Linked DNA regions of Homo sapiens: regions 1 and 2 are each reported to be linked to region 3. The links are microRNA targets in miRTarBase. Many come from high-throughput screens and were not tested one by one. Region 3 holds a microRNA gene; each other region holds the end of a gene's coding sequence.

Region 1 (5,073 bases), not on the chromosome of region 3:
CTCCCCAGGAGTGACTTGGACTGGCATAGGTTGGGCCGGCTGTCGGCCCTGGCCAGGAAGCCTGAGTGCATCTAGTATGCAGCCTGCGCCAGGTACCCCTCCCCGGACCTGTGTGCCCAGGATGCCATGTGCTGGAGCCTGGCAGGGGAGGGAGAAGGGAGTGGAGTGACCCCAGCCCCACCCCACTGTCCCACTGCAGGGCAGTGGATTCCCGGCCTCTTACTGGTCCTGCTGCCAGATGCCGCAGTCAAGAAGGCACTGTCCTCCAGTTCAGTTGAGCAGACATTTATTAAGCACCTATCAAGTGCAAGGCACTGTGCTAGGCGCCGTGGGAAATACAGAGAACACAGGCGGTCCCTGCCCACGAGGAGCTCACAGTCTAGAAAGGGCAGCAAGACAGTACACAATCAGTGGCAGCAGCACCAGCCAGAGTGGCAAGTGCTCAAAGCGAGACACAAAGTGCTGTGCGGTCACAACATCATGGGGATGCTTCTGGCAGAAGCACTGGAAAGGAGACGAGGACTCAGGCTGGGCCTTCCAGGAGGGAAGCCATTTGGGAGAAGGGCATCTCTAGCGGAGAGAGGTCCATCTGCAGAGCCCACAGGTCATGGGAAACATGTGGCTGCAGGGAGAGTTTGGGGACAGTCAAGTATGGCTGGGAGGTGGACAGCCACGGACACTAAGCTCAGGAGATGTGAACTTTGTGGTCTGGTCAAACAGCCACTGCAGATCACTTCGCAGGAGGAGGGGTGACTAGAAGTATGTTACTGGAAGGTAAATCTGGCCACACTGCAGCATCTGGACGGCAGAGGGCAGCGCTGGGAGGGGCCAGCCAGTTAGGGCCCACCACCCCTGGGTGTCTGAGAGTGGGAGTAGCGGGCAGGGGCCAGCAAAGCACGAGGGCAGAGCAGGGGACCATACGGAGGGTGGGTGTGGAAGAAGGGAGGGGCCCCATGCAAGCTGCAGGTCTGGGGAGCCTGAGGATGTCATAGGGCTTCCTGGTAGAGTGGAAAGTGCACTCCTGAAGGTCAGGGCCAGTCACTACAGAGAGGGGACAGCGAGGAGAGGGACGGTGTGGCCCTAAGGGTGACTGCAGTTTCTCAACATGTGGTCCGTGGATCACCTGCATGGGAACTGCCTGGGGAATGCGCTCATTTGCAGATTCCCGGGCCTTCCTCCAGAACTACTGGGCAAGCATCTGCCGGGTCATGCCCGGTAACCTACATTCTTAACACCAGCTGCCCTCTCCACCACCACGAGCCCCAAAGGTGGGGAAAAGTCTGCAAGCCACCTGCAGAGGAAGAATAGGGTGTTAAGGACTGGCTTTAGGCAAAAAGAAGAGACAAAAAGAATGAGGGAGGTCTGGGAGTGAGGGAAGTGGTGGGAAGCAGGGAAAGTCCGGTCAAGCCATGTGCACCAAGACAGAGCCCCAGCGCGGCCTTGCAGCCAGGCACCGGGCCGTCCCCAAGGGCTGCTCTCAGTCCGCTTTCACTTGGTGGGCGAAAGCCACATTTGCAAACTGGGAAGTGGAGAGTGGGAGGTGAGGGGAAGCACTAGCAATGAATGAAGAGGATTCTTCCGGGAATCAGGCTGTTTCAATCTAAAACATCCAAGATAAGTGGAAACACTGGGGAGGAAGGTGATGAACAGACGGAGGTGAGCCAGAGACACCTCCTGGGCAAGTCGGCCAGGAGGCGGGAGGCGTGGGTCAGAGACACTGCAGGAACTGGGTGAGGACAAGGAGGTGCGAGGAAAGGGGTTGGGGGATGGTCCCACAGGCAGCCACACCTGAGGCGTGGGAGGCAGGTAGGAGCTGGGGGAGGGCGGGGAGAAGAGGGGTTTCTGTGTGTAGATCTGAGTCCTCCCTCACATCCCAGCCGTGCCACAAGCCGCATCGGCATGAGGCCGGCTCTCCCTTCTTCACTGGTCTCAAAAGCCACCCAGGCCCAAGTCCCGGCCAGACAGCCGAGCCTGCCTAGCAACGCTGACCGGCCGCCCAGGATGGCCCAGACACCTTCTGTCTCCTGAATGCAGCCTACAGGGGTTCAAACAGACTGCTTGCATTAAGGTCAGACAAGGCTCTTTTACTTCCAGAGACAGCGGCCTGGAGCCTCGGGAAGAATGTAGGCCCAGGAATCACCCAGCCCCTCAGGACAACCTCTCTGAGCAACAGACATCCTCCCTGTTGAATGAGAGTGACATCTCTGCCCTGCCACCTACTTTACATGGATGCCACGAAGTGGGAGAGCCTGAGCAGTAGACAGGGAAGAGGCGAGCGGCCCCACTGCAGGAGGTAGACAGGCTACAGATACTTATGCAGCAGCCACACTGAGGCTAGTACTGGAGGAGGCTGAGAACCAGTAATGAGTTCTTAATGGTTTGATAATTTGGGTTTTTAAATATTAAATATTAAATATCAGGGGTTTCGGAAGGAATGATGAATTCCGTCTCATGCTGTAACTGATGAAGGCAACCAATGAGCAATCCTTCCTTCCCATAGCCGAGAAAGGGAAAGGGGACAGGCCAATCCCTCTGAAGCAGTAAGTCAGAACACGAAGACTTACAGAACTCAAACATCAAAGGTCAAGTAGCTTCTAGCCAGGAAAAGTGGTGGCCCCCTCAGCCTAGCCAGCACCAACCAGCATGGGTGGAGACTCAGCCTGGCAGTAAGGGCATTTCCTGGGTTTCCTCTGAAGCAGAGGAGAAATAGTGGGTCAGCCAGGCTGCTGGACTGAACCATGAGCCAGAAGGCCAGAATCACTGCAAGACAGCTCCAGCCCGCACACCTCAGTTGTGCTTTTGAAAACAGGTACAAAGCTGAGGCATGGGAGCTGTGACTGAAGTCGCCCTCCTGGCTGGCCTCGTCTTCTACCTCTGCTTCCACAGCTGGGTGACTTGGCCATAGGCCCAAACAATGGACAACCAGTTCCACATTAGGAGGCATCACGGACGCATCTGAGAGGAAACATGATTGAAGGACAAGCTTGGCCTCATGGAGGGCTCTGGATTCATCCCTTGAAGAACGCAGTGATCAAACAAAACCAAGAAGCAGGCCTGGAGGGAGCACTCTGGGATGCCCCCAAGTCCCCTCACCATTTACAAACCAGCACTGAGTTCTCAGCCTCCGCTCCTCAGGACTAGGAGACAAGATCCGGACAGGCAGGACAGGCAGCAAGCCGACTGTGAGCAGCCTGGGGGCGCAGGTGTAAAATACAAAGCCCTTTGAAGGTCCAGACAATAAGAGTAAAGATGTTAAGATTGCCCAGGAAAAGAACTTCACTGACACTGAATTTGGGCAACACCTAGAACAGACAATATTAAGATATCAATTCTGAGAAAGACTCACAGGAAAGGCTGTTTAGGAGGACACTAGAGACAAACACAGGGAAAATAAATACAGGGGCTCTGGGATCCCCCCACAGAAGCTACTAATGCTATTTATTGGCTTGGGTCACTTTTGAGAATAGAAAACCATTTTTTGGCAAAGCTGTACAAACTCCACATCAGGGCGTCTCCTGCAGTTGGGGACACAAGATGGCCACAGTGACCGGGCTCTTCATTAAACTTCCTCATAACCCGCTACGGTGTTCAGAAGCTAAGACGTGACTTCCAGAGCCAGGCCAGGCATGTGGAGGCCCCTGACTGTGGGCGTGTCAAGCCCTGGCTGGGGAGCCTGCTGCCTGCCCGGCCACTCCTCAGCTGTGGCTGTGGCTGTGGGCATGGCCGGACGGCGTGCACACTGGGCCGTCCCCTTTTGCGCAGGGTGGAAGGGGGAAGGAGGGTGGGACTCCATGGGCTCCACGATGTCTTCTAGCCCTGGTATTCTGTGAGACTAACTTCGCCCTGGTCATTCACCATGGCTAGGCACCAAGTGCCATCTAGTGGCACCGCGGGTCCACTTTCACAACACTCCAACCAAAGACTGCAGAACAAACCAACTCTTACCCACTTTAACTCCGGGGGTGAGGGCAGAGGAGGCTGGAAGGGTGAGCACACTTCATGGTAGTGATGGGACATACTCATCTCAAGAAAATATACTTTAAGACGTCTTGCTTTCCTTAAGAAAGCAACACTTTTTTTTTTATTTATTTATAAAGGCTAACCATATCCATTTGTCAATATTTTCGGCTTTAAGGAAAATAGTTTAAAAAACATAAAAAGGTAAATACACTCAAGAGTAACTGCTATTAAACAGTTCTGAACAGGCAGAAAATGTAGACTTTCCTTTAACAGAAAATGTTAAATCTGTAATAGCAGCATAATTTATATATAGAAAAAAGCTGGTTTTGAAAACCCAGATTTATACCCAAAACATTTTTTTTCTGTACAACTGCGTTTACACTGGGAAATAAGTTTCTTCACATTATGTTCATTCCCATCAGGTACAGGTGTGAGCTTGAGTTTGATCAGCCAGCCCTGAGCGCAAGCTCAGCGCTCAGCACAATCTTCAATCCAACACCATGGCAGAAAGCGCATTTAGATCTTTCATGTATGGGTGGGCCACCAAGATCTGGTCTATTTTCAGTCTTTGCTCTGAGTCAGGGAAGATCTTCAGAAGGGCTTCCCTCAGCTCGTTGGTTTCTGCAGAAGATCTCTGAGCTGGCATGGGCAGGTTCTGCTGGAGACTGGGGAGGGCTGGCAGCAGTGGGAAGTGGGGCTGCTGAGGGAGCCAGTGGCTTGAAGGGGCTCCCTGAATCCGGGTCGGAGGCTGGTGGCTGGTGCTGGCTGCCTGGGTGCCAGGGACTCTGAAGCTGGGGTCAAACATGCCCACATTTGGCAGGGCACTGAGTAGGGGCTGCATATCTCTGTGAATGGAAGTGAGTCCTGGTGAGTTGGGTTATAAGTAAACAAAAAATCATAGAGCTATTTTAGAAGGTACCTGCGGCAGGCCTTGAGGCTCAGGATGCCGCTCCCTGGCTTCCAAAGGCAGGATGCAAGACTGAGGTGGAGATGGTGCCATGAGACACCCACAGAGGAGCCTGCGGGGATTTCACTGACATCACCTCAAGGCGTGCCAGGGAATCAATGCGCTCTATGAGGGAGCACCACCCTCCCAGGTCTTCTGCTGTGAGG
Region 2 (5,073 bases), not on the chromosome of region 3:
GTTAAACTTGCCTCTCAGATGAGGGATCCTCACGGGGCTGAGGTGTCCAAACATCATGGAGTTGCAAGCAGACAGCATGGGTTTCTTCCTTGAAGGGGGGCTCCAGACCACAGGAGGCAGGACCCTCTGTGGGGTGCCCGTGTTCTGAGGGATAAGACACAGCCTCATAGGGGCGCCATCCCACCTGACTGGAAAAGAAGGCCCAAGATGTCGCTGACGGTTGAAGAGGAGTGGGAAACGGCCCACGATTCCCCGGGCAGGCACAGGTGCAGGAGCCGCTGGGTGAGCCCGGCCAGCTGGGAAGGCCTCACGGACAAGACAAGCAGGTTGCCGATGGCATGGCCAGGACCTGCGGCGGAACCAGGAACAAAATACGCTTAGTGAGTTGCCCATTTTGAGCGAGTTGTGCACAGACGAAACTAAGGGTCAGAAGCAGAGAGGATACTCCTAAGTCACCCACTTCTCTGTGGCCGGGTGCACACTGGGCATCTGGGAGTTTATGACATCACCATGGGGCTGGTGACAGAGCCAGGGTTGTGGAGGAGTGCTTAGGAGCCCAGCGAGGGTGCCTACAAGAGGGGTAAAAGGGCAAAGGGTGAGACCCTTCCACCGGTCCAGCTGGACTCTAGCCTCAGGGACGTCCTGCTCCTGGGGGCAGGTGTGTGGCCCTGGATGGGCCCCCCTGTGGGGCTGTTGGGGGTGCGGGGCTGATCTGCCAGAGCCCTTCCGCCTGGCGCCCGGCCCAGGTGCTGGCTGGCACCCAGTGGCCCTGTCTTGGCCGGCCCTGTCTCCCGGGTTACAGGGCCAGAACCTGGAAGCAGAGCGCAGGACCAGCCAGATCCCGCTAGGCTCCCCCGGGTCCTCTCCAGTGCCTCTGTGCCGCCTGGAGCCAGGCCCGCCTTCTCCATGGCTGCTGTGGCCTCAAGGGCCACCAGCCCCGCTCCGCAGGTTTCCAAAGAGAGGACGCGGTGCCCTGACCTGACTGGATGCGCCTCTTACCACATGCCTCCCTGGCAGGCAGTGTCTCCACTTTTTACAAATTTGCCTGAGACCATTCCTCAGGTCATTCAGGTGGTCATGGCCCAGCCAGGCTTTGAACCTGGGCTGTGTGATTCCACAGCTGGCGCTCTGGCCTGTGTGCCTCATGATCATGGATACAGCATCTATTCTTATTTTTTCCTGTAGTCCTGGGGTACTTAGCACCATGGCATATCTGTAATAAGCACATGCACACCTTGAAGGAGTTCTTCACTTCAGCATACAAGTTGACCATGGCATGCTCTGGGCTCCAGTCCTCTACAAAGATGTAGGGCAGGAACTACCAGTTGTCAGCACAGCACCATCCCACATTACTCTTCTAATGGAGCCTTTCACCCCAGATGTTCTTTCTTGTTTGATGGGAAGGATCCAAGTATGTAAAGATTATGTTCTAGATCAGCTTTGGTCTGTCCTAAAAGAAATTTGCCAGTGGATTATTCCATATGGATAAAAGTCAGTTTCTCTGGTCTTCCTGGAATGTGTCTAGAAAGCAAATACATTATTTACAAGTTCATAGTAGATCAATGTATTGGATTAAAATATGACAAACATAATTTGGTCATTGTGAGCATGCCAGCTCGGTCAACTATTCACCACACATGATGCCCTAAATATAACTCTAGGTTTTCTTATGCCCAAGAGAGGGACATACTTTTGGGTGTCTGGACTAGGAAAACATGTATGAAAAACCATTTGACCACTCTACATCTTGTTATTGGAGAATTGAAACCATCTATATTCAAAGATATTATTAAAAGGCAAGAAGTTAAAAAAAAAGAAAAACTATTGAGATAACAAAGTGGATTAGATATGAAGAATAAGACAAGGTAAATGATGATTCCAAAGTTTGTGCCTTTGAAGCATGATAGAATGAAGATTGAGAGAATGACAGTAGGAAGGAAATTGAGAAGACAAGCCAGTTTGTCTGGAAGTGGTTGACAATAGAAGGCGTCATATCTGTGAGCATTTGTAGAGACTGGATTGAAGTGCACAGTCAGGTTTGAACAAGGTGAATTGAGACTCATCAGTGTGAAAGAGATAATAGTAAGTTGGACCAAGCATGGGTTCTCACGAGGAGAAAGTTCATAAAAAGAAGAGTCCTTGGAAAGGGGGCACAGTCTTGGGCACTGGATGAGAGGAATTAACTAGGGAGATGGGGAAAGACCACTGAAGGGAGTATTTCATGAAAGACAGTCATCAATGCCCGATGTCCAAAACTGTGGAAGCTGGAGGTCTTTAGGCTTGTTGGATGGAGGGCAACATCACCTTCAAAGGAATACTTCTTGAAGGATGATGGCAAAAACATATATATATATATATATATATATATTCAGCAAACTTTTCTTCTTTCTGCCCACCATTCTATTAGTGCTGATTGCTGGAATGCTAAGAGAGTGTTTAAAAATTGTTGCTATTAAGTTTTTAATTTTTTCAGTTAAGAAAATAAAATATGCTTAGTACAGAAAATTTTGATTTCTTTTTCTATTTTAGTAGAGATTAGGTCTCACTATGTTGTCCAGGCTTGTCTCAAACTCCTGAGCTCAAGTGATCCTCCTGCCTTGGCTTCCCAAAGTGCTGGGATTACAGGCATGAGCCACTGCCCATTTATTTAATGCCGTCAGCAAACCATATAGGTAAACGTTTCTGCTTTTTGGCTGTTCTTGTTCCTCTGTGAGTTGTGCATCCTTTTCTATGACTGCCAGCACCACTGCCACTGGAGCTGTTTTGTCATTCACATTTTCTTCAATTCTAGTGAGGATTTCGAATGTTTATTGGCCATCTGTATAGCTTCTTTTGTGAATTTATTAATAATGAAGTTTTTCATTTTTATGGACTCAGATACTTATTGCCACATTGCTTGCCAAAAGGGATGACGAGTTTATGCTCTAGTATGTATATATTTATTTATACTAAAATTATCTATAATTATATATAAATAAAAATTATATATAATTTTATAAACTAAAAATTATGTATATTTTATAAACTAAAAATTAGTGTATAATTTTATAAACTGAAAATTATGTATATAATTTTATAAACTAAAAGTTATGTATATAATTTTATAAACTAAAAGTTATGTATATAATTTTATAAACTAAAAATTATGTATATAATTTTATAAACTAAAAATTATGTATATAATTTTATAAACTAAAAATTATGTATATAATTTTTTCCTTTAGTAAGTCTATGCTCTAGTGTAGTACATATGTATGTTTGTGTATGTGTATGTATATTAGAGCATGGACAAACTAAAAGAAATATATATATTTTTCTTTTTTATGAATTGTCTCATGTTTCTTGCTCATTTAAAGTAATATTTTTTTCAGATAGGGATATAATTCATATTTGAGTGTAGAATGAAAAGAGCTGAAAATATTGGAGGGGGAGGTTATATACTTGGATTTTAGGCTCTGGAAAATGTGAAGGTTGAAGTGGAAGAATACTGAACCTCGAAGGCAGAATGCAATGGGAGATGGAGTATTGGACTGCTTTTTGGCTTCAGGAAACATTGTATGATAACAATTTTATTCCTTTCCTGGGTCATGACTAAGCTTGAAGAGCATCATACTTTAATTATAGTCTTTTGAAAAAACACAAATAACTAAGATTGTTTTCGTTTTTGATCAGTGTCTCCAAGGCAAGACGGAGAATGAGGGGAAAAAAATGACCCAACAAAAGAAATTGATCATCAGGTTGTTTAATTATCAATTTTAATTTAATACCCTCATCAAACCATATAGGTAAACACTTAGTAGACTCACTGGATGGTTGGTTACAAGAGCTTCTTATAAAATCAAACATACTTTAGATTTGTGTTTTCTCTCATAATTATTCTTGATTGTTTATTTGAGCCAAAAGCTATGAAAAGTTTGTGTAAGGAGTGGGATTTAATAAAAATTTGTTGGATGAGTAATTGAAAGAATGAATCCATGGCGATAGATTCAGCTGCACCTGAACATGAGCAGAGTCATAAATTTACTTTAATCAAGTGCTAGAAAATCATAATTAAGTTATGGCATTGTCTAAAATTATTTTGAAGGATAAAATTTTAGGATGAACTTGAAATACTTCTAGGAAATGTCATGAAGCAGAGTAATCTATATATATGAATTAATATTTTATGATTATGAGATATTATTGCAGAGTCTTATAATTTCCTACTGCTCTATTTTAAATTCAATGAATCAGTTGGAAAAACTGGCACCTGCTAAAGATATGGAAGGAATTTTTCCATTTTTAATGACAGGTACATTGAGATAAACTGTCTCATGACAAAGCCCATTTTGGCATTTGGAAGTAGCATTGTTTGGTAGGAGTTTTACTGACTGTATTTGTTTGCTCAGATGTTTCTTTAGTGGTGTCCCCCACTGCTGAATATTTTATTATTTGTTTTTGTAGAAATTTAGGAAGAGAATTTAAAAGATTGTTAATCTGCATCTGAATGTGTACACGTGAGTATTGAGGGTGATTGGGAGAGAAATTGGGGGCATGTTGAGATGATAATGATTCATTGCTTTGTGGTGCTTGCCTCCCTTTGTAGTACCAGCCTCTCTCTCTGAGGGTGACCTTGCTTATCTTCCAAGGCCTGGGGAGCTGGTGTTTCCTGTGCACCAGCAGGACTCTCATCAAGTGGAAGTCCCCTGGTATATGGTTGTGATGCTTGGCTGTAGTTGAAAAAGACAGAACAATCTGAGATCTCACTGGTGAGGGATACACTGCAAAGCTCTGGGCCTGATGCCTGGGCTATCTGAACTTGCTTTTGATGCTCCTCTTGGGTTACATTTGTTTGCTGCAGTATCTTCTCCTGTAGGTACTGGTATAGTGGACTGGAATAGACTGCACCCCTCTCCACAGAACAGGGCTCTTGGTCTCTCTGCATCTGCTTTTCAAGACTTGACCAGGGGACTGAAGAATTGTGCTCTTTCTTGGCTGGACTTTTTTGGTCACCACCTTCTCCTGCCAGCTCTTGGGGACTTTCATCTTCCTCCTCTGATGTTACAGGTTCCTTTGTTTCAAGTTGTATCTTGA
Region 3 (5,067 bases):
ATACACTGAAGTATTTAGGGGTAAAGAGCTATGATACATGTAACTTATTCTCAAATGGTACAGAAAAAGAATCTACATGTAGATACACACACACACACACACACACACACACACACACACACAGCTGATAAAGCAAGTGGGGCAAAATGGGTACAGCACATATTTTTGTCCTATTATTCTTGCAACATAAATCTTTTTCTTCATTTTCTGCTCAAATATAAATAAATACCTCATTCCTTTATGTATTCAAAAGCACAAGGACAGGTGATTCTGGCTAGCTCTCAAATACTCCATTTCCTCCACAGGTAATAGCCATGCTCAACTCAGCGTGGTCTCAGTCAAACAGTGGCTCACTGATCAAGGATCCAGTTTCTTTTTTTCTTTTTTTTCACCAAGACTGAGAATCACTCGATCACTCAGGCTGAGTGCAGTGGTGCAATGATGGCTCACTGCAGCCTCAACCTCACAAGTAGCTGGGACCACAGGTGTGCATCACCACGACTGGCTAATTTTTTAATTTTTTGTAGAGACAGGGTCTCACTATGCTGCCTAGGCTCTAGTTTCTTATTTTCTGCCATCTGCCAGTCACCCAAACCTAAGCTGATGGGCATACAACTTACCCCTGGCCAGAGGAATTGGTTCATGCTCATCCAACAGCAAAAAATTTAGGACTTTCATTTGATGGTTGAAGAGAAGCAGTTGTCTTTCTTTCCCTCTAAAGATGACTCATGAAATTATTAGTCCCATTTGCTGCTGCAATTACACTACACAGACCCATGAAAAGATCCAGCCTTAGGATGAAACCAGCACCGCAGATGGCAAAAATAAAGAACCTGGGTCATTGATGACATCAATAAACTGCTGGATCAACCAAACTCAAAGCCCAGCCTAACAATGGACTTTCCAATTAACTGAGCCAACAAATTCCTTAACTATCCAAGCTAGCTTGAGTTGAATATTCTGGGATAAAAGCAAACCAAATGACACTCTCTAAATCACTATTATCACTTCCTGTAAAAGGTATAAGTAGAAAAGAGGAAAGCAAAGAACAGATATGAACAGAAAGGAAAGGAAAAAAAGGAAAGAAGGGAAAGAAGGAAAGGAGGAAAAAGGGAAAGCAAGGGAAAGGGGAAAAGGAAAGAAAAGGGAAAGGAAGAGGAAGGGGAAGGAAAAGGGGAAGGAGAAGGAAAAGGGGAAGGGGAAAGGAAAAAGGGAAGGGGAAAGGAAAGGGGAAGAGGAAGAGAAAGGGGAAATAAAAAGGAAAATGGAAAGGGGAAGGGGAAGGGAAAGGCAAAAGAAAAAGGAAAAGGGAAAGGGGAAGAGGAAAGGGAAAGGGGAAGGGGAAGGGAAAGAGGAAGGAAAAGGGAAGGGGGAAGGGGAAGGAAAAGGTAAAGGGGAAAGGGAAAGAAAAAGGGGAAGGGAATAAGAGGAAGGAAAAGGGGAAGAGGAAAGGGAAAGAAAAAGGGGACAGGAATGGGGATAGGGAAGGGGAAGGGAAAGGGGAAGGGGAAGGAAAAGGGAAAGGGGAAAGGGAAAGAAAAAGGGGAAGGGAATGGAGAAGGGGAAGGGAAAGGGGAAGGGGAAAGGAAAAAAGTCAGGGATCAAAGCAGAAAGCCATCAGGCCACAAATATTGAGATAATGAACAAGTACTGCAGCCAGACCCCAAGCAAGGTGAAAAGCTTTGTTTGTAAGGGAAAAGTCAAGGGTCTTAGACTCCAAAAAACCAGGGATGAGCTCTACCAAGAAGCTTCTAAGACTTTGAAAATGTTCTCCTTATTTGTCCTTAGGAATACTTTTTTTCACTTTCTGCTATCAGTAAATTCTTTTTGAAACTGCAAAGCCGCTTGTTTCGGAAACAAATTGAGGAAAAATCTGGACAGTTCTTCCTCGGCACAAGAGAGGGAGAGAGATCGTTTCCCTGGCCTGCCTATTTCCTCCTTTGTTCTCATAAAATCACAAAGGAGAAAACAGGCAGGGCAGGGAAGCTGGCCCAAGACCAACAAAGACTCAATTCTATCTGGAAAATAAGCCCTAGACCTCCAATGTTTCTCAGGCCCGGTTTCACCTCAAGACACCAACCTCACTCAAGTATGTGGATCCTATTCCTACAAACCAGCAGGTAAAGAGCTTGGAAAAGGAGGAGTTGCAAATTCACTCAGTGTCCAGGTTCTGTTCCTGGCATTTCAAAGGACAGAGATTTTTTTTTTTTCTTAGCAAACACAACATTTCTCATAAATGCCCTACCCCACCCTAAAACTTTCACAGGGTTTAGAAAAAAATGATAGGTAGCTGGTTTCTAAGAATCAATCTGAGAAAAAAAGTGGAAAAAAAAAACAGAGAAATGAAAGGTTACATTTATCAACATTTAGGCTCTAAATAAAGAGAAAATAGATACATTATATAGTAAAAATAAATATCAAACAATAAAGAAATACAGAAATAACATCTCTAACCAAAAATACCTGAAAAGATTAAGGTTTCTATCAGCTCTCACAAAAAACCATGTGTAAGAAAATAATACAAACTACTGGAATGGAATTCATTAAAAAGTTGATATTTAAAAAGGAAATTAAGCAAAGCACTACACTCTGTGATATCTAGTCCCAAATGTACTCTGAAAAGTACTGCCCCCACTCATGACTGCCTGACTTCTGCCGACCTGTAACCTTACGTTCAGATTATTCACCCAGCTTCTCAGTAAACTATCGCAAGAACAAAAAACCAAACACCGCATATTCTCACTCATAGGTGGGAATTGAACAATGAGATCACATGGACACAGGAAGGGGAATATCACACTCTGGGGACTGTGGTGGGGTCGGGGGAGGGGGGAGGGATAGCATTGGGAGATATACCTAATGCTAGATGACACATTAGTGGGTGCAGCGCACCAGCATGGCACATGTATACATATGTAACTAACCTGCACAATGTGCACATGTACCCTAAAACTTAGAGTATAATAAAAAAAATAAAAATAAATAAAAAAATAAAAAAAAAAAAAAAAGAATGCTATCCTATTGCTGCCTCATCACCATTCACCAGCAATTTCCACAACAGAAGAGTAATCCCTGTTGGCTGAAAGCCTATAGCATATTATGCATCCTCCCTGACTGACCAACTGAAAGTGTTTAATCCTGTATTTCAATCCTATGTGCTCAATCCAAGTGATCCTAGCAGTTATACTACAGAGGCTTGGGGTATAGTCTTAATCCATAAAATGTACTTCTGTAATTTTATATGAATTCTTATTTAGAAAATTTCTCTTAAAACTCTGTTCTCACTAAAATATGACCAATTAGACTAGAATTTCCTTGGATATAGGAGCTGCATATCTTACCCTTACCTGTATTACCCACTGTACAGAACCACATCCAGGACATGGTAAACAAAAACTGCAGGTTGTTAGAATGAAAACAATGTCCACCTGAGTGACATTAAAACCTCAAACAGCTTCTATTTGCCTTTCATAATTTCTATCACAGATTTTTAGAGCTATTCATAGACACACATACACAACATACATGTTATTCTTTTACTGGAGCACAGCTCCATAAGAACAAGACATGAGTCTCATTCTTTGCACCTCTTAAATTTCCTGCTACAATGTTCTGTATATACATTTAAGTAAATATTTGACAAACTGAATTAGAGACTCATGAATGTCCACACAATAATATACAGAACAGAATCATGGATGGATCAAGATATATTTCTATTCGGTTTGGAAACACACATCTATCCCACTCCTACCAGCCCTGAGAGATGAGTGCAGGAGAGAGGATGTACAAGGACATAAAGAACAACAATTTAACCCTTCCAATTATATTTTCCATAAGGTTACAATGTTTAAATTAATTTTCATTCATTTAGTGGACAATAACTGGCCCCAGTAATGCACTTTCTATTTAGGGAAAACAAATCCAAGACTTAAAATTCCAACAGGTAATCTGTAATATAAAAACAGGAAAACCTATAATTTTGCCAATTTTTACTTTCTTGGCATGTTTAAACAGATTTTTTAAACTTGGCCTTAATGAAAAGATCTGAATCTCTGCTGGCAGGTAAAGGTTCTAGTTTCACAGATAAACTGGCTACCATTAACTGCTTTTGCAGAGCCAAAATAACTCCACATGACTGTTTTTCAACTATAGATTTTAAATTTCTGGTCAAACAACTTACCCTCATGAAACTAGTGAGGTTGTTTCATAGTTTCCACATATTATGCACTTAGAAATACAGTCATGCACCCAATAACAATGTTTTAGAGACTGACCCCGTATAAGACTATGGTCTCGTAAGATTATGATACTGTATTTTTACTGTACCTTTTCTATGCTTAGGTATATTTAGATATACAAATACCACTGTGTCACAACGGCCTACAGTATTCAATATAGTAACATGGTGTACAGGTTAGTAGCCTAGGAACAAAAGGTCATACCATATAGCCTAGGTGTATAATAGGCTATACCATGTAGGTTTATGTTAATTAAGTACACTCTATGATGTTCACACAATGACAAAATCGCCTAACAATGCATTTCTCAGAAGATATCCAGTCATTAAGCAATGCATGACTGTAATTTAGCAAAAGACAAGAAAGACAAGAATAAACTCTCTTCCTCTTTCCACATGATGAATCACAGATTTACCGTTTTAATGTTTGAGATCTCTGTGTTGCTCTTGTCTGAACTGCATTTTGACATTGTGATAGCAGTTTATTGGAAAATCACAGCATGCCCAAGCTTCTGCTCTAAAAATAAATGCAAAAATAGCCAAGTTTAAGATTCCTGTAAACTGAACAGAAACACATCTACAAGAGAGCCCTACTGATATGAAGAGTTGAATAAAAGGCCATTATTTTGAATTAAATTTTAAACAAAAGGCATTTAGATTATTTTAGGATACCAAGGCTTACCCTAAAACAAAGAACAAGAGAATAAGCTACAATAGCATGCCTAATTCCCAGAGATCTGGGAGAAATAAAGAGCTAGAGCAAAGTTCAAAAAAAGATTTCAAAGCTAATATAAGGAAATCAAAGTAAATAAAGTCTAAAGATGGTA

The links. Region 3 holds the annotated microRNA hsa-miR-3173-3p (AAAGGAGGAAAUAGGCAGGCCA, at 1,921-1,942, opposite strand). A microRNA usually pairs through its seed, bases 2 to 8, with sites in the 3' UTR of a target mRNA and lowers its output. Matches are read on the target gene's strand: a 7mer-m8 pairs with bases 2 to 8, a 7mer-A1 pairs with bases 2 to 7 and ends in A, and an 8mer does both.
Region 1: the mRNA of N4BP1 is a reported target of hsa-miR-3173-3p. Seed matches in the 3' UTR shown: 7mer-m8 at 3,775-3,781 and 7mer-m8 at 1,739-1,745.
Region 2: miRTarBase lists TCHHL1 as a target of hsa-miR-3173-3p. Seed matches in the 3' UTR shown: 7mer-A1 at 3,920-3,926.

The regions. Positions count from the first base shown.
Region 1 is chr16:48,538,457-48,543,529 of GRCh38, forward strand. It overlaps N4BP1 (NEDD4 binding protein 1), which reads right to left. Exons shown (of 7, transcript NM_153029.4): 7 at 270-4,805. The coding sequence ends at 4,448. Among named protein-coding and RNA genes, the nearest start is that of N4BP1, 69 kb to the right of the region's middle. RefSeq lists enhancers at 118-617, 3,165-3,665, 3,666-4,166.
Region 2 is chr1:152,080,415-152,085,487 of GRCh38, forward strand. It overlaps TCHHL1 (trichohyalin like 1), which reads right to left. Exons shown (of 3, transcript NM_001008536.2): 3 at 3,727-5,073. The coding sequence ends at 4,553. It also overlaps the pseudogene LOC100131107. Among named protein-coding and RNA genes, the nearest start is that of TCHHL1, 6.1 kb to the right of the region's middle.
Region 3 is chr14:95,136,003-95,141,069 of GRCh38, forward strand. It overlaps MIR3173 (microRNA 3173), which reads right to left and starts at 1,984; the gene lies at 1,917-1,984. All of the region lies in intron 1 of DICER1 (dicer 1, ribonuclease III), which reads right to left.